Homo sapiens: one gene and its partners. The protein of the gene in region 2 interacts with the protein of the main gene of each other region in a pairwise test. Each region holds a gene or a part of one and is shown on either strand. Other genes may lie near its edges. The genes, in order: FAM83F, CSNK1A1, MALT1, FAM83B, FAM83G and FAM83E.

Region 1 (4,012 bases), on a different chromosome or scaffold from region 2:
GGTGAAAACCAGGTCCCCAATAACCTGTCGTTTCACAAGAAAAGGAGAAAGGGTAAAGGCGGCCGTGATGTCAGCGAAAGACCTCCAAGACAGAAAACCTTGCAGTCCCCGTGCTCTGCCTCTTTCACGGGAGACCTGGGCAACGCACACGTTGCTAGGCCTCAATTTCTTCAACTGTAAAATGAGGGGGTTGGAGGAGCTTGAAAAGCTCCTTCCAGCTCTGAGATGCTGCGCTATAAAGTGAGAGAAATGTGAACCTTTAGTTGTTATGATCTGAAAATATTTTGAATGTGGAGAATCAAATTGTAGAGCAGTGCATGAACAACATAATATGTTAATGACTAAGACGATTGTATTTAATCCGATGGGAAACAGCAGAGCTGCTGCCACCGCTGCTGTGTGTGTGCGTGTGTGTGGTGTGCACGCACGTGCGGTTTCCTTCCTTGAGCTCAAACATACATTTTGAATCACTAATATAGTAATCATGTCTCTGGCAGCCTATCTTGCCCAAACACACACGGAGAGACACCACACACCCTACTTCAAATTAAGGTGGGGGCGGGGGGAATTCCACTGCTGCTCTTTACATCATTTCTGTTTGGATAGCTATTTTTTAAAAGAAAGTTTTACAGTGAAGGTGTTGGACTCCCAGCCCAGAAGGGCTCTGATCTCAGAACTGGGACGCAAGGGTGGGGAGCTCGAGCTCTCATTAGCATTTCGCTTTTGCACACCCCCTGCCCGCTCCTCAGCCGTCACAATCCCGTCCTGCAGCAGGCCCCCCCACCAACACCGGACCCTCGACGGGGAAGGGGTCAGCTCGGCGGCCCCAGAGGCCACTGGGCCAGAACACGTGCTCCGGACTCCACGTGCGCGGAAAATGAACTCGTACCCGCGACGCGGCCGGCGGGGGCGGATGGCAGCGAGGGCCGGACAGCGAACCTTTACCCCGCGGAGGAGTCGGGGCCGGAGCCCGCACGTGGGTCTGCGACGGCCCCGCCCCCTGGGGGCGTCCCCTCAGGGACTCTAGCCCCGGCTGGTGGGCCCTGCAGGCCCGGGCCCGACCGCGTCCGCCAGGCCGCCCGGAGGTCCCGGCGAGCCCGGCGGAGGCGGCGGCCCCTCCCCGCCCGACGGCCACGCCCGCGCGGATTGGCCGCTCCCCGACGGCGGGGCGGGGCGGGACGGGCCGGGGCAGAGCTCGCGGCCAGGTGAGGCGCCCCGCCCCTCGGCGGCTCCAGGTGCGGCTGTGGGACCTCGGACCGCGGCGGGGCCGGGGCCAGGGCCGGGGCCGGGGCCGGGGCGCCATGGCCGAGTCCCAGCTGAACTGCCTGGACGAGGCGCACGTGAACGAGAAGGTGACCGAGGCGCAGGCCGCCTTCTACTACTGCGAGCGGCGGCGGGCCGCGCTGGAGGCGCTGCTGGGCGGCGGCGAGCAGGCCTACCGCGAGCGGCTCAAGGAGGAGCAGCTGCGGGACTTCCTCTCCAGCCCGGAGCGCCAGGCCCTGCGGGCCGCCTGGAGCCCCTACGAGGACGCCGTCCCCGCCGCCAACGCCCGGGGCAAGAGCAAGGCCAAGGCCAAGGCCCCCGCGCCGGCGCCGGCTGAGTCCGGCGAGTCCCTGGCCTACTGGCCCGACCGTTCCGACACCGAGGTGCCTCCTCTGGACCTGGGCTGGACGGACACTGGTTTCTACCGCGGCGTGAGCCGGGTCACGCTCTTCACCCACCCGCCCAAGGACGAGAAGGCGCCGCACCTCAAGCAGGTGGTCAGGCAGATGATCCAACAGGCCCAGAAGGTAGGCCCCCGCCTTCGCCCCCACACCGCTGGGACCTCGGCCCCAGTCCCCTGGACCGGGCCCCACCTCCCAGGCAGGGCCCGGGGCAGGCCGCCCTGAGCACCCTCTGGAAAATGGGCCCCAACCCGCCCCTACTTCCTGGGGCTGCAGTGAGGCCTGTAGAGCGAATGGCTGGGAACGTGTTTGGCAAATTACAAGGTGCTGGACAGATGTCAGCCGTCGGTATTCCAGCGTTCAGAGGCACTGGCTCTGCTCTGTACTTCTGAAACTTCCCTGTCCAGCCTTCCTCCCCAGGGAAGACTGGGGGCCGAGGCCCTGTGGTTAAAATGCACCACTCAAAGGTCTTGATGATAACCTACGTGCTGCCCAGAACATATCCCGAGCCGCTTTCTCATGTGATCGTCAAAACAACTTCAGGGAGTGGGTGGCGGTGACCTTCCCGGTCCCACCTCTGCCATGCTGCTCCTTGGACCACCCCTCTCCTCCCATAGTCAAAGCTGAGCTGGCGCCCTCACAGTCACAGCCTCTCCTGGGCCGGGTACTAGGCCCCAGCTGCCTGGAATGAATGGGGGACGGGGTATATTGAGGACCTACTGTGTGCCTGGCCCTGTGCTGGGCGCCTTGGCACAGCAGGTCACCTGACTCGGCAGCTCAGGAAAGGGCTCCTACTTAGCATATGTGTCCTGCTTGAGAGTTGGAAGGAGGGGCTGTTTCCAGGGTGGCTGGTGAGGCCAGTCCACTGTGGAACAGGTGGAAGACTTTAATCTTTATGCCTTTGGGTGGGAGTCCTGGGCAGCTTCCAGATCAAATGTAGGATGCCCCACTACATTTGAACTTTCAATAAACAACACATAACTTTTTAGTATCAGCTTATCCCAAACATGACATGAGACGTACTGATACTGAAAAATTCTTCGTTGTGTATCTGAAATTCAAATTGAATGGGAACGTTTTGTACTTTTATTTGCTAACTCTGGCTGCCCTACACTGAGATTTGTTAAGAAACAGCAGCAGCTTTTGGTGCCCAATTCAGAATAATACAACAGGAGTGGCTTGGGTTCACCACTCAAATTCCACTCAGTGAGTGAGGTTGGAGTCCTGGTTCCCCTCGAGGCTGAAGAGGCCTGAGGAGGGAAAATAGAGCTAGAAAGACCAGTGCTCAGGCTCATCTTCCTGGAAGGGGTGATTTAGGTAGTTGGGGTGATCTAGATAGTTGGCTACATTGGCTACCAGAAGGAAGGGTTAACTTTCCACTGCGCACATTTCTACCCTCCCTCTCTATAATTCCTCCCTGTCTGACTGAGTTTTCTTTGTATATTGTGTTCTGCAGAAGAAAAAGGCAAGATTGGACACAGAAGAGGGAAAAAGGATGTAGGCGGCAATACAGGCTGCAGCTGGGGTTAGGGGTCAAGTCTCATGATGTCATACTAACAAAGCCTCTATTTATTTAGCATTTAATATGTGCCATCCACTGTGTTAATGACTCACCTGCATTTTCTCATTAGCTTTTCACAACAACCGGGTGAATATGTGTTTTCCTTATTTTTGGAGAAAAAGACATCAGGATTCAGAAGTTTCTTGCCAGAGTTTCCATAGCTAGTAAGTGGCTGAGCCAGGACCCAAACTCCAAAGCCCTTGCTCTTAACCACTGTGCTACACTGCCCCAGTGTCTGAAATAATGGTGCAGTCCGATTAAGCAAGGGGTTTGAATGAAGCTAGCCTGGTCACAACCTGGAGTGCAGGTGGTGTACCCCTGTTACTAGAAGGGGGAGACTGGGCTTCTGGCCACTGAGGCATCTAGTCCCATGTGGGATGACAGGACTCTTTCCTGCATAGTGAGGTATTTTTGACTCTTTAAATATTTAACAACAGAAACTTTTAACAATTGTGAACCCATCCAATAAGTACAGGTTTAACCAGTGATTTCCTGAGGGCTGACTGTGTGCCAGGCACTACCTAGCCATGAAGAAGATACACGGTGTGGCTTTGCCCTCCAAGAGCTTAACAAATGCTAGGGCTCTGCTGGAAAGAAAAGAGTTTTTAAGGCTGAATGTGCCTAATCTGGGAAGGCTTCCTGAGGGAGGTGAGTTGCAGAATTGGAAAGGGAGAGGGTCAACTGGAATGGGCACTGTTTCAGTAAGAGAGCTTTTTGCTTCGAAAAAGCAAGGAGGTTTGATTGGCAGGTAAAAAGAGCTGTCGTGGGGGGAGGTGAGTACTGTGTG
Region 2 (3,500 bases):
AAACGACAAGGATAAACTACTAGACTTTTTTTTTTTAACTTGATTTATTGATGAAGACTAGTAAAAGCTTATGGGGGGGTGTTAAGTCTGTTCATTATCTGTTCTATTAATACTTAGGATACTTTATTTTGATATATTTGAATGCATAGAATAGATACCATTTAATGAATAAGACGCAGTTTAATTGAACAAGGTTGGAAACCTAATGTTTCTGTATTTCTCTTTTAAAGTTATTCCTTATTGATTTTGGTTTGGCCAAAAAGTACAGAGACAACAGGACAAGGCAACACATACCATACAGAGAAGATAAAAACCTCACTGGCACTGCCCGATATGCTAGCATCAATGCACATCTTGGTATTGAGCAGAGGTAAGTTCGAAAATGGAATGTGCTTATCATAGCCATAGCAGAAGCCATCAATGGGTTTTTGAAATATTTTAGTTTCTTACAATGTCTAAGGATGTTTCTTGGCTGAGGATTTGAAGGATGCTTATTAATCATTTTACCTGCTGCTTTAACCAGTGTAGAGAAGACCGTTAAATGAGGTCTTCTGGATTTTTTGTTGTTGTTGAAGGTTGTCTCTTGGGGGGAAAATACTGCGTGATAGAAAGTTAGAAGCATAAGTGCAATGTTGACGTTTCTTTTTGCAGCTGAAGATAGTACATATATTTTTAGAGCTATTTGGGGCTTTTTATACTTTAGTAATTCACGCTGAGTTTGGGAAGAATGCATTATTTATTTTTAAAAGGAAAATGTTATCAGTGTCCTAATAAACCAAAAGTGGGTTGATGGACCATCTCCTGTTATACTTCACTCAAATATATAAATTAATAGGATCTAGTTTAAAGTAAAAAAAGTAACAGTCTCTGCTCTCTTCCTATTTCTTCACATGAGTTCTAGAGTTTCGAGTTCCTTTCATCTTTTACAGTCACTTTTTGCTCCTTAAAACTAGCATAGAAGTAATAAGTAGAAAAAACAATGATATGCCTCCAGGTTAAAGAACCTCATACCAAGAATTTCAGGCTTAAGAAATATCCATGAATATCTGAATGATCTAGGTTAAACTGTAATGTCACTTTTTCTGTACGCCAAGGCATTACCTATCCTTAAATATATATATATCTAAATATATATTTGTATGTATGTGTATATAGATATGTATGCATGAATACATTCATATAGATGTTCAATTAGTTTTAAGTTGTAACTCCTTTTCAGTACTTCTGAAGTTTTTTTTTAATGAGTTTCTGCAAAACATAGAAATGTCATCCTGCTTGGTTCATTAAGCTCATTTAGAGGGTTGTTTAGCCAAATCGTTTCTGTTCTTTTAAAATTAAATTGTAAGACAGTTGTTTGTCAGATTTTGGATTCCATGGAAAAAGTTTTGTTTAGAGGTAGGTAACACATGAACTTTTTAAAATCACCTTAAATAAGTAGCTTCTTGCGTAAGACACCAAATAGTGTTCCCTCCTCATTTGGGAACATTTCTTCTGGGTACTTGACTTTCTTTCATATGTTTTTTCATAATAATAGTTCCAGTTTATAAAATTACGTTCTCTTTTCTAGTCGCCGAGATGACATGGAATCATTAGGATATGTTTTGATGTATTTTAATAGAACCAGCCTGCCATGGCAAGGGCTAAAGGTAAACCAGACTCACATTATCAGATTTTTCTCTCTCTTTTTTAGAATAAAAATATATATTGGAGAAGATAAGATTTAAGGTCCCTTCTAAGTCTGAGATTTTTCTGAGATATAAAGAATTAACCTTAATTTACTTTTTACCTTTTATCTGGGAAAATGAAACCAGATCATTTTAGTAAGAACTTAGTTCAGCTGAAGAACAGTGTCCTCTAAGAGACAGTAAGCTGGTACCCACTGGTAGCCACTAGCTCTATCTAGATGGAAGTGGGCATGGACTAAGAAAGGTGGAGACTTTCTCATTTTGATGTGTTGCCATTATGTTGAAAATGTATGTTTTTATGTACAGCAAGACCTGTTTATCCAGCAATACATGTCCTAACATTTTGTTTCTATTAGCTAGGAGTTTACTGTTACTTTTGTGAGTGTATGTTAATGATAAATCACCGTATCCTAATTTTGGGTGGGGGTGGGGGCATGGGGAATGGTCTTGCTCTGTTGCCCAAGCCGGAATGCCTGGCTCACTGCAGCCTGAACCTCCTGGGCTCAAGCAGTCCTCCTATCTCAGCCTCCTACCTGTAGCTGGGACTACAGGAACATGCCACCATGCCCAGCTAATTTTTAAATTATTTTTTGTAGAGACAGTGCCTCACTGTGTTGCCCAGACTGGTCTCAAACTCTTGGGCTCAAGTGATTCTCCTGCTTCAGCATCCCAAAGAACTGGGATTACAGGTGTGAGTCACCACTGTTGGTGTGTCCTAAATTTTAATGGCTATTTTGGTACCTTACCAGTTCTTTGAAGGAATACCTGTATTTATTGAGTGGCTGTGAGCTAGTTGTAGTGCTCAGTCCTTGGGTGGGTAGCTTTATCTAATATGAGTATTTTTAGTTTAGAAAAATATTGTGACTTATACAGTTAACTCCATTTATTAATGTCACTAATTGATGAACAAATTTTTTTGTATTAATCTGATGCCTTTGCCCTTGTGTTGAACATGGGTTAAGAAAATGCTTTTCAGGCTGAGCATGGTGGCTCATGCCTATAATCTTCAACACTTTGGGAGGCCCAGCCAGGCGGATCACTTGAGCCCAGGAGTTCAAGACCAGCCTGGTCAGTATGGCAAGACCTCACCTCTACTTTAAAAAAAAAAAATAGCAGGGTGTAGTGTCACATGCCTGTAGCCCCAATTACTCAGGAGGCTGAGCCGGGAGGATTGCTTTGAGCCCAGGAGTTCGAGGCTACAGCGAGCTATAATCGAGCCACTGCACTCCAGCCTGGGCAACCGAGGGAGACCTTGTCTCAAAAAAACAAACAAACAAACAAAAAAACAAAGAAAAGGAAAAAGGAAAGAAAATGCTTTTCAGCTGGGTATGATGATGCACACCTGTAGTCCCAGCTACTTGATAGGCTGAATCAGGAGGATTGCTTGAGGCCAGGAGTTGGAGGCCACAGGGAATTACTGCTGAGCCTGTGAATGGCTACTGCACTCCAGCCTGGGCAACATAGTGAGACCCCATCTCCTTAAAAAAATATATAGAAAGAAAGAAAATGCTTTTCAATTTTGGCCCCAGCCATTTTTACTTAAATCTAATATCCATATATTCCTATTAGACTCACCCTTTCCCTATAGCTAAAATTAAATTCTTAGAGAAGAAACTTACATCAGAAGTTAACAGTTTGGGAAAAATTTTTTTTAGATGTATTATACTTTGATTTTTTAAATTCTGGGTTAAAATTTCTCTTGAATCTCACAGGTATATGTTTATATGTCTAGTGCGTTAAACTACCATGGTTCTTCTCAGTAGCACTGAGTATATCTTTTTTATTTTATTCTTTTCCACAGGCTGCAACAAAGAA
Region 3 (3,500 bases), on a different chromosome or scaffold from region 2:
AAGCAGATGTTTGGAGGTTTGGATCCCATTTGTCTGCCATTGCCTTTCTAAGGAGTAGAACCAATGACTGTTCCTCTAGATTTACTATTTTTTTGCTTGCTCAGCATTTACCAATCAAAATCCAATGCCAGAGTTCAAATGCAACTCTAGTTTTAAAGCTAACAAGGAGTTAGTGGGTTATTTTGGGTAGATATGTAGCTACCTAGATGAAAAATTTTGAATCTATAATTTTAAATTATGTATTCTAAAAAACTGTTGTATTTTCTCATTATTTATACCCTTTTAAGAATGCTCTTTAACTTTTCATATTTCTATCTGCCCTCCTCCGCCTCCCTTAAATAGAAATGACTACGATGATACCATTCCAATCTTGGATGCACTAAAAGTCACCGCCAATATTGTGTTTGGATATGCCACGTAAGAACATTTGATGTTTACGTTGAAGTTTCCTTTATTGTTTGATGTCTTTTTGTTTTTGCTTTTTAGGAGCAGGGGTCTTAACTCTGTCACCCAGGCTGGAGTGCAGAGGCGCCATCATAGCTCACTGCTCCTGGGCTCAAGCGATCCTCCTGCCTCAGCCTTCTGAGTCGCTGGGATTACAGGCATGTGCCACTGTGCCTGGCCCCTGAGGGTTTTTTGATTATAGATTAGAGGCCTAGAAAATACCTATAGACATGTAGGCATAAATTTACCTCCTTGATATTCTGCGTAGAAAATTTTAAATGATCGACTTTAGCATTCCATATCATGGTATCTTAATTATTAAGCCCAAATTGGGCATGTAATTCCTGCTTAAAGATTAACTCTTTAATTATCAATGTCATGTGAGAGGCAGAAGAGAAAATGAAGCTTATTGGTGTATACAGAAGTCCCATGTGGCAAGTGTTTGCTTTTCTAACATTTTCTTTTTAAAAAATTATTTTTATTGGATATTGACAAGTTATAATTGTATGTATTTATGGGATACAAAGATATGCTATGATGTACGTATTCAATGTGGAATGATTGAATCAAGATAATTCACATATCACCTCAAATACTTATCTTTTTTCCTAACTGAAACATTGTACCCTGTGACTAACAGTCCCCACGCTGTCCCCACCCCCCCCCAGCCTCTGGTAACCACCATTCTGCTGGGTGCTTCTCTGAGTTCATTTTTATTAGCATCCACATATAAGTGAGAACATACAGTATTTGCCTTTCTGTGCCTGGCTTAACTTCTTTTTCTATTTTTAAGGTGTCAAGGAGCAGAAGCTTTTGAAATCCAGCATTCTGGATTGGCAAATGGAATCTTTATGAAATTTTTAAAAGACAGATTATTAGAAGATAAGAAAATCACTGTGTTACTGGATGAAGTTGCAGAAGGTAAAATAAAAAATAAAGAGAAAAGTACTCAGAAAAAGGAGAGCAGGGGAGACACACCTATTCAGGGTTCCCTCTCTGGTGATTGTTTTATTCTTATTATGTGGGTTTGGAATTAGTACCTACTTTATAAAACAATTTTTATATTAATATAACGTTCAGCAACACTTCTGCTATTTAATGTCATCTTTCCTTCCCTTTTGACCTAGCTCTCCACCATCTGTGCAGCATTACTCAGACTACAAGGCTAAGCCTCGGCACAGTCATTAATAAAGTTGAATTCTCAGAGCTCTACTTTGCTTCTATGCCCAGTGCCTTGGTACTGGCAAATCTCCCTATTTGAGGGTGGGTGGGTGGCATGGAGGGGTGGTGGGGAATTGTCCAGTGAGCAGTCTCTCCCAGGATGGGAGAGAGAAAACTTTACAGAAATTTTTAGACACTGCTGGGAAAAGCTGAGTTCATTTTTTTCCCTGATGAACTTAGTAGTTTTTAAATCCTGATTTAAGGATGTGATCCTAGGGGGTCTAATGCCACATCTTCCATTTCTATCTGTTCTCCCTGCCTGCTGGTATAATGCTGTGCATATGTCAGATGCTGAACAAGTACCTATTATTTCAGTAGATTGCACTGTGTTTTTTGAAAAAACATTTTATAAGCCATAGCAAAAAGAAGGTAACTTGGCCAGGTATGGTGGCTCAAGCCTGTAATCCCAGCACTTTGGGAAGCTGAGGCAGGAGGATCACTTAAGGCCAAGAGTTCAAGACCAGCCTAGGCAACATAGCGAGACCCTGTCTTCAAAATAAAAAATAAAAATAAAAAAGAAGAAATTATTTTACAAACTAGCACCACTAGAAAATGGAGTTTCATGGATGTTCCAGTGATGGCAGTTTGGGTATAAGGTGTTTGACCAACTGTCAGCCATATTTATTTTCATGTTTTTATCTGTGTAGCTATTTTAGATCACTTGACTTAGCCACTTTTCCATTTAACATAACCAGCCAGGGCTTTGGACTTCCTGCCACCCTCCCGCTTCATCCAGAGAAGTTCCACTTTTATTTGTTTTCTACATTAGGCTTCTTCTGAAGCTTACATTTGAAGGAAAGGCTCTGCTGCTTTAAAAAAAAAAAAAGAAAGAAAGAAAACCTTTGGATTATGTCAGTTATATTCAAACTGAGATCCAGTAAGGTGCTCCAGAAACTCTACAGTGTTTTATTTCAATTTCGTTTTTAAGTCCATTTTAACTATTTTAAAACTTAATAAAAAGCACCATGCTCACTCACATATGATATTTACCAAATTGTCATAGCAATGAATGGCATCCCGATATGTGCTGTGAGGATATTTGAACTTCTTATAAACATCTTAGACAGTTTTGCTTTTCGCTGATCTTTTTCAGTCCTACCATGTCTGCTTAACCAGAATTGCCCAGGCAGGAAGACCCTGTAGTGTACATGGAGCACACTCAGCTCAGTGCCGTGCACATTGTGCCCTTCGTGGGTAACGGCCCACTCATTGTACAAAATAAGTAAAGGCCTAATAGTATCATGATAAATAATACAGTTAAATCTAGCCCTTATTTTGAGTTTTGGATGCTTTGTGTCTGACCCCTGTCTTAGTAGTAAAGAGCAAAAGTAGTTGTATGAAATTTTTCACAAGTCATCCAATTTTGAAACAAAACTTTGCTGTTTCTCCCTTTGGATCTTCCAGATTACTTAATTGAAACTCATTCCATGGCTGGGCATGGTGGCTCACACCTGTAATCCCAGCACTTTGGGAGGCTGAGGTAGGAGGATTGCTTGAGCCCAGGAATTCAAGACCAGTCTGGGCAACACAGCAAGACCCCATCTCAATTTAAAAAAAAAATTATTTGGGGCCAGGTACAGTGGCTCATGCCTGTAATCCCAGCATTTGGGGAGGCTGAGGCAGGAGAATCACTTGAACACAGAAGTTTGAGACCAACCTAGGCAACATTGTCAGACCCCCCATCTCTATAAAAATTTAAAAAATTAGCCAGGCATTATGGTGTGCACCTGCAGTGCCAGCTACTCGCGAGACTTAGGTGGGAGGATTGCTCGAGCCTGGCAGTTTGAGACTGTAGTAAGTATGACCACACCACTGCTCTCCAGCATGTGTGACAG
Region 4 (3,500 bases), on a different chromosome or scaffold from region 2:
GCCACTTTGTCACTATTTTACATATCTGTTTTGGCATCTAACATGTATGTTTTTTGTTGATTTCTGCAGATTATATTAATGTGTCTCTATTTATTCATCCAAATGATTACTGATCAGGGCCAGAACAAGAATACGTCACTTTGGTATGGCACAAGACACAACTTTATCAGGATAGCCTTGTAGTTTAGATGTTGGTAAAATAATAATTTAATTTTATTTGCATTTTTAAGCCATGTATAATCCTTTGGAATTTGAGCATTCAGTATAAGCTCTCTCTGTAAATGGTTTATTTTTTCTTAATGAATTTATTTACAGGAATTATTCAATAAATGCTTCCAAATGACATTGAATAATTGTGTTTTAATGTCATTAACATGTATTGGGTATTTTTTTCCCCCAATATCTAAAATTCCTGTAGTTTATATCTAAGAAGGCAAATAGCAGCCAGTACAAACAAACCCTGGAATCATATTGGTATGAAAGTGATATTGCTATCCCCTCCCTCCAGTTAAAGTAAATTGAGGAAATTAAAGAATGAGTAGGTATTGAGCAAATGGGATTCCCATTTGAGATTTAGAAAATGAATTGGAAGTATGTTTATTGTTTTTATGAGTTTGATAAGATGGGTGATTCTACTGGTAATCCATCTGTGGAGATGTTTGCACCCAACACCCTGTGACTGAGTGCGTCATGTATTTATACTTTCTGTGACCTGCTGAATATCATGCCGTGCAGATGACTGTAATCTGTGCTATTGGGCCATGTTGTTATAAGTATTATTATGAAGCCAGCTTAGAATTTTTTAATGAGTTTGGATGTCAACATGAGATATCAAATTGCACTTGACAGCTTGAATATTATAGTCAATTTTTAATTTAATAGAAACTTCTTTCATGTTTTAATTGTTATCTTAAATTTCTGGTAATCAAATGAGAAGACAAACAATCTTGACAGCTGAAGAAAGAAAAGATATATGATTTTCAACTGTTGTGGACCATGGGTAATGATTTTATATGAAAGAGATGTTCTGAAACAATCCTTTATGAAACATTTTCTTACATTATGTAGACAGACATTTTGATACATATCATAAAGTCAATTACCAAAAGAAATAACAAATTCAAGAATTTTTTCCCTCAATATATGAGAGTTTGCAAAGTATTTCTTAATAAAATTGCTTAACATTGAAGTTATATCAGATAACTAGTTTAACTATATCATTTAAGCTGCAAAAACCAATCATTTCTAAATGGTAAATTTACTTGGTAATTTAAGTTTATTTAAAAATTTTGAAGGTTTCAAAATAAAAGCATTTTTGTACGCATTTGTATCAGCTGCCTAGTGCAGCTGTAACGAAGTACCAAAAATATTGGCTTAAAACAGCTGAATATATTCTGTTATGCTTCTGAAGTCTAGATGTTTGGAATCAGAGTGTCAGCAGGGCCATGCTCTCTTTGAAGTGCTCTAGGGGAGAATCTGTTCCATGCATTTCTCTTATCTCTGTTCTTGTAGGCAATTCTTGGCATTCCAGTCTCTGCCTCTGTAGTCACGTGCAGTTCTGCCTTTGTGTCTGTCTCTGTGTCCCCTCTCTCCTTATAGACACAAGTCATATAGTCATATTGGATTAGGATCAGCCATGGTCTAATATGACCTCATCTTAACTTGATTACATCTGCAAAGACCCTATTTCCATGTAAGGTCACATTCACCGGTAATGCAGGTTAGGACTTCGACATATCCTGTTGGAGGATGTAGTGCAACTCATAAAGCATTCAATACTTGGAGAGAAACAGCTTAAGAGAGAGACTGGAAAATGGACTGCAGTGATGTTAGCACCTGTGATATTTTTTATATTTGTTTCAGTCAAAATTCTGACTTTGGTTTATTGGCTTGCACATTAGGTAATTATAGCCTCGGACTTTTGATTTAAAAAAGCTGTAATTTCTCTTTGGAACATTTTCCCACTGACCTATTACATCAGAAGCCTATTCAATGAATTCTCTCAGGTCAGAAACTAGGAACAAACTGATACTAGGTTTGGTTGTTTTATACTGCAGATGATTAAATAGTTACAAATTGTATGATATTGCTAATGGTATGAAAAAACATCTCTTTTCAAATCTTAAAATCTCTTATCAAATTTATTACATATTTATAGTAATTATACTATAGCAGATTGTGAACATGTAAAATAGTCATAATAATAATAATAATAATAATAATAATAATAAGGTTGAAATGCATTACCTTATTTATTCCTTAAAATAACCCAAGAAGATAAAGACTGTTGTTATTCTCCTCTCTACATCTGCCCAAACTGAGGCTTGTGGACGTGTGTAACTTGTCCAAGAGCTTCATAGTAATTGATGAAGCAGAGTTTTAACCTGGCAATTTGACCCTACAGATGAACTCTTATCTTGTGTGCTATAGGTTTTTTTTTTTTCTATCTAAGTCTCATGACATTGCTCATCAGTAAGATTTTTTTCATTAAACTTTTTATTTTGAGATAATTGTGGTTTCACATATAGTTAAGGGCAAAAATCCAGAGAGATTCTTTGTATCCTTTACCCAGTTTTCCCCAGTGCTGCTGTCTTGCAAAACTATAATACTGTATCGTAACCAATATGCTGATATTGATACTGTCAAGATATAGAATATTTCTATAACTACAAAAATTCCTCTGATTGCCTTTTTATAGCCACATCTACCTCTCCGACTGTCATTTTAAGAGTGCAGCATCTAACCAAATGGAATTATTCAGCATGTAAACTTTGGAGATTGGTGTTTTTTCATTCAGCATAATTCTCTGGAGAGTCATCCAGGTTGTTGCATGTATTAGTAGGCCATTTATTTTACTGCCAAGTAGTATTCCACAGTATGGGTGTACCATAGTTTAATATTCACCTGTTGAAAGACGTTTGGGTTGTTTCCATTGTCAGGCTATTATGAATAGAGCTGCTATAAATATTTGTGTACAGGATAAGTTTCAACTTTTCTTGGATAAATCACCAAAGTGCAGTTGCTGTGTTGTATGTTAGTTGCATGTGTCATTTTATAAATGAAACTGCCAAACTGTTTTTCCAGAGCAGCCCATGAATTGAAAGCAATTTTTATGACTTATTTTATATCCTTTGTATTTATAGAATTTCAGTGGAATTTCTACTTGATACAAATGACCCTAAAGCTCAATATCAAATGCAATTTTTAATTTTTTTTGAGGCATGGATTTGTAAGGCCACTTTTTTTCTGGAATGAGTCATTTAACTGTTAGATAAGCCTAATGGTCTGCTCAGCTTACATGGCATAGTGATATCTTTTTTTTTTTCTCTACTCATTAACTCTACTGTGTATGATAAAAGAATATGCTTCCTGGGAGTTTTTAATAGTTATTAATAAAATAATTCCTTATTTTTTATATATATATTTAAAGGCACACCTAATTAATTTTGTCCTCAAATAAAGCCCTCCAAATGTTCAGGGATTGAACTGCTGAGAGTGCT
Region 5 (3,500 bases), on a different chromosome or scaffold from region 2:
CTGGTTCTTCAGGAAGTTTGCTTATGCCTGGTCTAGGACTTATTTGTCAACTGCTGAGGCAGTATCCTTCTGAGGACACCCCCTGCAGGACCTGTGTGTTAGGAGGGGTTTCTGTTCTGGCTGGGGGCACATACACTATTCCCGGTCCTGCGTGAGCACCAGCAATTGTTCCAGCCACCCCTTTCCGGTGGTTCTCTGCTCAGCCTCCCCTTTCCAGTGGTTCCCTGCTCAGCCTCAGTAGTTTCCTCACGTTCGTGTGCTGCTCGGCTATCAGCTGAAGACTCCAGGGGACCCTCTGCAGGTCTCTGGAGTTCACTCTGTGCAGCTCTCTCCCCTGCGGCACTCCGTCCTGCAAATCCTAGCTGCTACACTCAGAGTGAACCCTGTCTCCTCAACTCAGGGAGACCACAAGACTCCACGGGGGCGCCCCTCCCTGTGCTGCAGCCTGGAAATAGTGGGGTGATCCTAGGGCTCAGCTGGTTTGTTCCTCTTCTCTCAGGAATCGCTGTGCTGATTGAAGCCTGTTGTCCATGGCTTCATAGATTTTATCCGGGTTTTTTATTGCTAAGGCAGGGGGTGAATTCCGTCTCTGTTATTCCATCATGGCTGTAAGTGGAAGTTGAATCCAAGGTCATGATGGCCACTGCCTCAACCTTTAAGACAGTCTGCAGCATTCCTGTGAGCAGCCCTGATGCGTCACTTACAGCCTTCCAGCTGGCCCGGAGGGTAGTGAGACGCTGCTGGCCTGTTCACCCCAGAGGGAGCTGTGGGTCTGGTGGGATGGGACTTGGGTTGGTGGGAGGACGAGGAGGGTCCGTGCAGCTGCCGTTTGTGGATCCCCTGCTAGGGCTTCACCTGCATGAATTCATTTTAATTTCCAACAACCTTGTGGGTGGGGATTGTTATTATCCCCATGAGGAAATGAAGGTACTTGCCCAAGGTCATGCAGCTTCCCAGGAGGAGCTGAGATCGGAGCCAGCGGGTGCAGAGCCCACACTGCCACTGTCTGGGCATCTGCCATCAGACCTGGAGAATAACGAACCCCAAGATGAGAGACTCTGTCCACCCCCGGCACTTCTCAGGTGGGAAAGTGAGGCCCAGAGAGGCCTAGGGACTTGTCTGCAGTGTGTGCAGTGTCTGTGGCTGCTTCAGGGCTCCAGGTTCTGGGGCAGGCTTGAGGGTATCTGTCCTCCACCTGCCTGGAGCATAGTGAGGAGAGAGAATATGGCCGCCTCTCTCCTCTCTCTGAGCCGCCTCTAGGGATCTCTGAGGCCTAGGAGGGTGAGGTGAGTGTAAGGCTTGTCACGTGCAGGTTGGAAACTGTCCCCTCTTACCCGAGTCTTGCGACTCAGTCCTTGGGAGACTCCATTGCTGTGCCTGAGAAGAAATACGCAAGTGATACACGCTCAACCCAGACAGGCCAGAGTGACGACAGGGGAGGCTGGGGCTGCACTGGAGTTGGGATTTGAAAAAAGGTAGTTGTCCGAGCAGATGCAAAATGGGCAGGTGGCAAGGAGAACAACATGTAGGAGACACAGTGGCTTGAGGCAGGACGCGTCGGGGAGAGGGATCAGGAAGCGTCGGGGAGAGGGGTCAGGATGCGTTGGTTTAGGGCCCCCCTGAAGAGGTGCTGCTGCAGAGGCTGGGCCTGTGCACCCGTGGTTTCCCACCATGCTCGGAACCAGGCCAGCCCGTCTCGCCCCACCCCTCCTCCCCAGGCACCTCTGTGGAGACCTGTTCTACCTACTCGTCCTGCGAGGGCACTTCTGCTTCAAGAGTGGTTCTGTGGTCACAGGAAGGCTAGGAAACAGCTGTTGTGGGTGTCAGGAGCCACAGGCTGTTGTTGGCACCTGTGAGGCAGGAGCTGTGTGGGGAGGCAGGGAGAGGGCGGCCACCAGCACTTCCTCTCCCAGACCTGTGGGCGCAATGAGATGTGTTAGCCGCCCAGACAGGCCCTGCCCGGCACCAGGCAGGGAACAGGAGTTGGGGTCCCTCGGCAGGGACATCAGAGACGAAGGGCCTTGGACATCTTGTCCACCTTCTCCTTTGACAGGTGAAGAAACTGAGACCTGGAACGCAGGTGTGGCTCACCCAAAGCCCAGCCTAGAGCTTGGGCGCCGGTGCTGGACCGACTCCGCCCGCTCCACCCTTGCTCAGGGGGCTCTGGCTGGGGCTGAGGGAGATTGAGGAGGCCCACGCCTGTGCTCCCTGCCTCTGTGACCTAAAGCCCTGTCCCACCCCCAACGCCAGCAGCCAGTGTTACGTGGCTTCAGGCCGTGTCTGCTGGGGGGCAGTGGCCACAGGTGGGGTTCTCCTTTGTGTGAGATGCTGTCACCCCTGCATCCCAGCTCAAGCTGCTCCGGTCACTGCCCAGGTGTTGGAGGTGCTCCTGGCAGGGCACTGGGGATCCCCATGCAGCACCACCTTGGACCAGTGCCCTCCCCTCTCCCAGCTGCAGTTTCTGCATCTCTCACATGGAGGCGGATGTCCCCCTGTCCCAAGGACACAGAGGGAGGTGGGGGATTCGAGACACAGGCAGAAGGCAGGGTGGAGAAGGCCGGCGGATCCACTGGGCAGGGAGGGTACAGCATGGGAGGAGGTGCTCATCGGGCGGGGCGCTGGAGGGCTTGTGCATATGGACACCCCTGGACAGACATGCCGGAGGTGTTTGGGCACCAGGAGCCCCCAGGGAGAGGCCTGGGCTGGGGCAGGCGCAGGCTCGCTGTTGGCTCACTGGAGGAGTGCCCACATCCCTGCTGGTGTTTCCCTCCAGTGCAGCCTGCCTGCCTCTGCCCCCCAGGCATGGCCATCCTCCCACACCCTGCCATCTTGGGCCATCCTCCCACACCCTGGCAGGAGTCAGATGGTTGTCTTGGGCATTGGGCCTCCTGGGTTCTGCAGCTGCATCTTCGAGGCCTCAAGGCCGCCCAGCAGAGGCCTGTCCATCAGTAAGATGCACAGGGACCACTGGGCTCCCTCCTTCACTTGGGAGCTGGGCTGTGTGGCCTGCGCAGATTCCAGGCTGCTGGGCTGGGAGCTGCCCGTCGGCTTTGACAACGGTACCTGGGGTGCAGGACACACACGTGCCCGCCTGCCATGCCTGCCCCTGTGCCAGCTGCTCACATGGACATGGCTGGTTCCTGCCTCAGGAGCGGAACAAGCTCAGTGATGGGACCCAGGCCACCCGCCTCCTGCCCAGTGTGGCCCCTGACATAACAGCAGGTAGAGCTGGTCTTTGGAGTCAGCCTCCCCTCTCATTTCCACAGCCCTTGCCCTGCCCAGGACCTCTGAGAGGACGTGTGGGCTTGGGGCTACGTGAAGCATCTGGTACTTTTCTTGACTTGGGCCAGCTCTGACAATGTGTGAACTGGATAGAACCACAGGGGCAAGCCAGGCCCACACCCCCATTTGACAGATGGGGAAGCCAAGGGCCCAGGAGGGGCTGTGGTCCCAGATGCCCTGATTCCTGCAGTCATTCCCAGACCAAGCCAGTTGGTCTT
Region 6 (4,052 bases), on a different chromosome or scaffold from region 2:
GAAACCCCTGGCTTGGTGATGAGGGGATGGGGGAATGACTGAGACTGGGGGTGTCATAATTAGGTTCAAGGGGCATCGATACCTAAGGGCATCCAGGTCTTGGGGGAGGGTAGGGGCCCCCATTTCTTTCTTTTTTTTTTTTTATTGAGATGGAGTCTCGCTCTGTCGCCCAGGCTGAAGTGCAGTGGCTTGATCTTGGCTCACTGCAACCTCCGCCTCCCGGGTTCAAGCAATTCTGCTTCCTCAGCCTCCCGAGTAGCTGGGACTACAGGCGCCCACACCATGCCCGGCTAATTTTTGTATTTTTAGTACAGACGGGGTTTCACTATGTTGGCCAGGCTGGTCTCAAACTCCTGACCTCGTGATCCGTCCACCTCGGCCTCCCAAAGTGCTGGAATTACAGGCGTGAGCCACCGCGCCCGGCCGGGCCCCCCTTTCTGAGAGTAAGGATGAGGTCTGGGGTTGTAGGCACCTGAGTCCTGGGGCTGGAAGGTGTGCACTCCTGGGTCCCAGGGGTATAGGTCCTTTAGGGTAGGGGTGTGCGCTTGCAAGTCCCAGGAGGACAAGGGAGAGAATGCCTGGGTCCCCGTCCCAGTCTGGTGAATGGACACAGGGCCCCCGCGACACCCACCTTGTGGGCAGCCTGGATCTCCAGCCGCACCAGCTCCTTGAGGGGCGGCTGACCCTCTCCAGGAGGCTGGGTGTACAGCTGCGCCCGGGTGATGCCTTTCCACGCAGAGTCCACTGGCCAGCCCAGCCGCAGGACGGGCGCCGGCTGCTCCGACTGCCCAGGCCAGTAGCTCAGGCTGCCCGCGTCCACATCGGTGGTGGTGGCTCCCTCTGCCATCCCGCTGGGCTCCTGCTTGGCCACTGTCCAGTCTTCAGCTGCCGCTGCCAAGCCCTGAACCTCATCCGCACTGAGGAAGGGCCACAGCTCCTCGCGCTGCACGCAGGTCTGGAACGCCTCCGCGCCCTTGCTCAACAGAGCCTCCAGTGCCAGCCGCTGGCCCTCGGAATATAGAAAGCCGGGGCTGGCCCCGGGCACCCTGGGACCGGAGTCCACTCCTTCCAGCGCCGCCAGCTGGGAGGCCGCCATCGGGGTCACTCGGGTGGGAGGACTGACTGTGAGAGGCTGGGTCCCCGGGGGTCTGGCTGTCTCTGGGGACTGTGATCATCTGGGGGTTCTCCTGATAGGCAGACCCTACGTGGCCATCCGAGGCCTCCGGCGGGGCCCTGCAGATGTCCAAATGGCTCCCTGCAGCAGCCCCTGCCACACTGTTCTGACAATCACGCTGCCCAAATAAGCGACCATCCAATGTGTCAGGCCACTCAGATCCGCCACCTGCCTGCACCCAGTGGCACCATGCCTGGCTGGCCTTCCGTGACCTTCCTGCCAGCCGTCTCTGCTGGTCAGGTTGACCTCCTGACACCATCCCCAACTGTGTGACCCATCAGCTGGCCATCTCTGCTCAGCCACACGACAGCCTCCAACCCACCAGTCACACAGTGCCCAGTCAGACCCTTCAGCTGTCCTGAATTTGGTCAGGCTGACCACTTGATCATTTCCAGGCGGCAAGCTGCCTGCCTGTCTCTAATCACCCAAAGGTCCTTAAAGGCACGACAGGTTGCCTGCCTGCCCCCGGCCAAGAGCACGACGAACTGACCCTCTCCTTCCACTGTCTGGCAAACGCCAATGGCTTCCGACTGACAGTCACAGTATCTGCCTGTTGGAGCATCTGTCTCTGGCCAAATCTGACAGCCCCCACGAGTTTCTCCTGCTCATCAGCTCTCACCCGCAGACCAGCCAGGATGCCTCTCCACTGGGCCTGCTCGCTCAGCCTTAAAGGCCGAAGGCTTGGCAAACCCTTCCCTACCCTGTCAATGGGGGACCCTGCTCCCTGGACCCTCCTCACACTCCTTCCAGCTGCTGCAGTGGAGGGTGAAATGCGCTACAGGGGTCTCCATTACTATGGGACAGGTCTATGATCTTCACAGCCCATCTAGGTGTGAGTGCCACCTAACCAGCCACCCTCCTCAGGCTGGCTGCCCCTGCCTGGGGCCTGGCCCTGGGACCTGTTCCAGGCCGTCCTCTGATCTGCGGGGAGCCCTACCCAAGCTGCCCCCAGCCTGGTTTCTGCCTAAATGCTATCTCCTGCCAGCTACCCGGACGCTTCTTCCCGGACAGGGGCCAGTCTCTATCTCGCCCTGTCTCCCTCCCAAGCCTCAGTTATCCCCTTGAGGCTCCTGACCCAACCTCGGGGACCCTGGACCCTTGATCCCTGCAAACCAGAAGCCCTTCATTCCAATCCCACCAACCCAGGCCGCTGCTTCCTCCAGACCACAGCAGGGAGCTGCAAAGAGAAGAAAGGAGTCAAGGCAGGCCAGCCTCCCCGCCCCACCCTCACCCATCCCCCCCATCGCCGGGGCTCACCCACACCGGCTAGTGCCGGGCTCAATGGCCTCCCTTCCAGTGCCTGCTTTTTCCGAGAACGTAGGCTGTGGCTCCCCGGCTTCTACTTCTGCGGTGCTTCCCGGCTTCTGGCCTCACTCATCAGGCCTCGACCTGGAATCCAGGGAGCCCGGCCCCTTGTGTAAACACAGGAGGGCCCCCACAGGCCCCTGGAGGAGGTCCGGGGGTGCGGCTCACACGCTTTCTTTACCTGTGCTCTCCCAGGGGGTGAACGCCCCTCTAGACTCAGGCTTCCCGGTCCCCGGGGGGTTGAGATTGCCTCACCTGTTCCCAGGCAGTCTCTCCCTCCCCACAGCCCTGCCAGCCTGCACCCTGCACTTCCCGGTCCACGCCCCACCCGCCATCCCAGCACCAGGGAGGGGCACAGGATCCTTTAAGAGGGGCGGGCGTGGCTGACCCAAGGAAGCCGGTGTGGGAACACCTGCCACCTGGCTGTTGGGAAGGAGGCAGGGAGCTTCCGGGGCAGTGGGGGCAGGAAGAGGGCTGGTCTTCACTGGCATGACGTCCCTGTCCCCAAACCAAATGCATTCTCACCCGCAGGAACCAATTCTCCAACCCATCCCCCAATAACACACACAGAGCACTGTCAGCAAAAATCTTTTTAATAAGAGAGTAGGATCCAGGGTTAGTTTTTGTAGCCTCGGCTGGCCCGTCGGCCTCTGGCACGCTCGAACTTCCGGCCCTTGGAGCGGACGTAGGGTCTGTGGGGAGAGGAGGGAGTGAGAGGGGGGCCCTCTTAAAGGAGGCCATTGTGGAGTGGCACAGGAACACCACAAGCCTGTCACATTCAGCCCCAGGAGAGTCAATGCTGCTGGAAAAGCTTGGCAGAGTGGGAAGCCAAGGAGCCAGGAGGGGCTATGGAAGCACCTGCCCCACCACCTGGAGGGTCCCAGCCTGGGCTGGCAAAGGCCGGTGAACTGCATGCTCCCCAGGAGATGCCTGCTCAGGCCCTGGAAAACACAGCTCCAAGCAGTGTTGAAGGGAAAAGCAGGCAGGATGAGGCAGCTGAGAGTTCCAGAAGGCCTGGGGCTGGCTGGTACGAGGGATAGGAGAAGCAGCCCAAGTGTGGCCAGGCCTGGCCCTGCAGGCTGAGTCTGGGGAGAGGGCAGGGCTGGGGGCCTGATACTCACTTGGTGTGGCTGTGCGGGGTTCCTGGGGCCTTGCCGAAATGCCGGTACACCTCTCGGCCCTTGCGAGGACCTAGGGAAGGGGAAGGAGAACCGGGTGAGACAGGGATCTGGCGCCCAGCTTCTGGCCTCCCAGATCCAGGAGGGTGAAGGCTGCCAGTAGCCACACAGCTCAGTCCAAACCCGTCGACCACGTATCACTCACCGGAGAGCAGGACAGTGCCACAGCCCTTAGGGGAGTCCAGGGCCAGCTGGTCGAAAGTGAGGATCTTGCCCCCTGCCCTGAGGATGCGGCTGCGGGCCCGGCTGGTCACGCGCAGTGCACATACCTGGTGGAGAGGACAAGGCTGGCGGGTCAGACCCCTGCGTGGTCACCCAGGGGCTGCCAGGACTCACCCTCCACTGCCTTGGCGCAGCAGAGCCCTGGTAACCAACACTATCGTTTACTACCCGGA

What was found.
Region 1: the proteins of CSNK1A1 (region 2) and FAM83F interact in binary tests that used the Homo sapiens proteins (3 or more experiments, as listed by UniProt).
Region 3: the proteins of CSNK1A1 (region 2) and MALT1 interact in binary tests that used the Homo sapiens proteins (3 or more experiments, as listed by UniProt).
Region 4: the proteins of CSNK1A1 (region 2) and FAM83B interact in binary tests that used the Homo sapiens proteins (3 or more experiments, as listed by UniProt).
Region 5: the proteins of CSNK1A1 (region 2) and FAM83G interact in binary tests that used the Homo sapiens proteins (3 or more experiments, as listed by UniProt).
Region 6: the proteins of CSNK1A1 (region 2) and FAM83E interact in binary tests that used the Homo sapiens proteins (3 or more experiments, as listed by UniProt).

Annotation. Positions count from the first base shown.
Region 1 is NC_000022.11:39,993,742-39,997,753, forward strand, and holds the start of FAM83F (protein FAM83F), read left to right. Parts: upstream 1-1,212; 5' UTR 1,213-1,301; coding exon 1,302-1,790; intron 1,791-4,012. Other genes in the region: uncharacterized protein LOC124905155, read left to right, coding at 607-1,027.
Region 2 is NC_000005.10:149,509,940-149,513,439, reverse strand, and holds part of CSNK1A1 (casein kinase I isoform alpha), read left to right. Parts: intron 1-230; coding exon 231-370; intron 371-1,567; coding exon 1,568-1,646; intron 1,647-3,486; coding exon 3,487-3,500.
Region 3 is NC_000018.10:58,733,965-58,737,464, forward strand, and holds part of MALT1 (mucosa-associated lymphoid tissue lymphoma translocation protein 1), read left to right. Parts: exon of another isoform or gene 1-16; intron 17-342; coding exon 343-417; exon of another isoform or gene 418-423; intron 424-1,237; coding exon 1,238-1,365; intron 1,366-3,500. UniProt on the Homo sapiens protein: Protease that enhances BCL10-induced activation: acts via formation of CBM complexes that channel adaptive and innate immune signaling downstream of CARD domain-containing proteins (CARD9, CARD11 and CARD14) to activate NF-kappa-B and MAP kinase p38 pathways which stimulate expression of genes encoding pro-inflammatory cytokines and chemokines.
Region 4 is NC_000006.12:54,863,771-54,867,270, forward strand, and holds part of FAM83B (protein FAM83B), read left to right. Parts: intron 1-2,226; exon of another isoform or gene 2,227-3,500. UniProt on the Homo sapiens protein: Probable proto-oncogene that functions in the epidermal growth factor receptor/EGFR signaling pathway. Activates both the EGFR itself and downstream RAS/MAPK and PI3K/AKT/TOR signaling cascades.
Region 5 is NC_000017.11:18,991,265-18,994,764, reverse strand, and holds part of FAM83G (protein FAM83G), read left to right. Parts: intron 1-3,500. UniProt on the Homo sapiens protein: Substrate for type I BMP receptor kinase involved in regulation of some target genes of the BMP signaling pathway. Also regulates the expression of several non-BMP target genes, suggesting a role in other signaling pathways.
Region 6 is NC_000019.10:48,612,277-48,616,328, forward strand, and holds the start of FAM83E (protein FAM83E), read right to left. Parts: upstream 2,801-4,052; 5' UTR 2,661-2,800; intron 2,564-2,660; 5' UTR 2,432-2,563; intron 2,352-2,431; 5' UTR 1,097-2,351; coding exon 632-1,096; intron 1-631. Other genes in the region: RPL18 (large ribosomal subunit protein eL18), read right to left, coding at 3,096-3,171, 3,601-3,670, 3,803-3,926. UniProt on the Homo sapiens protein: May play a role in MAPK signaling.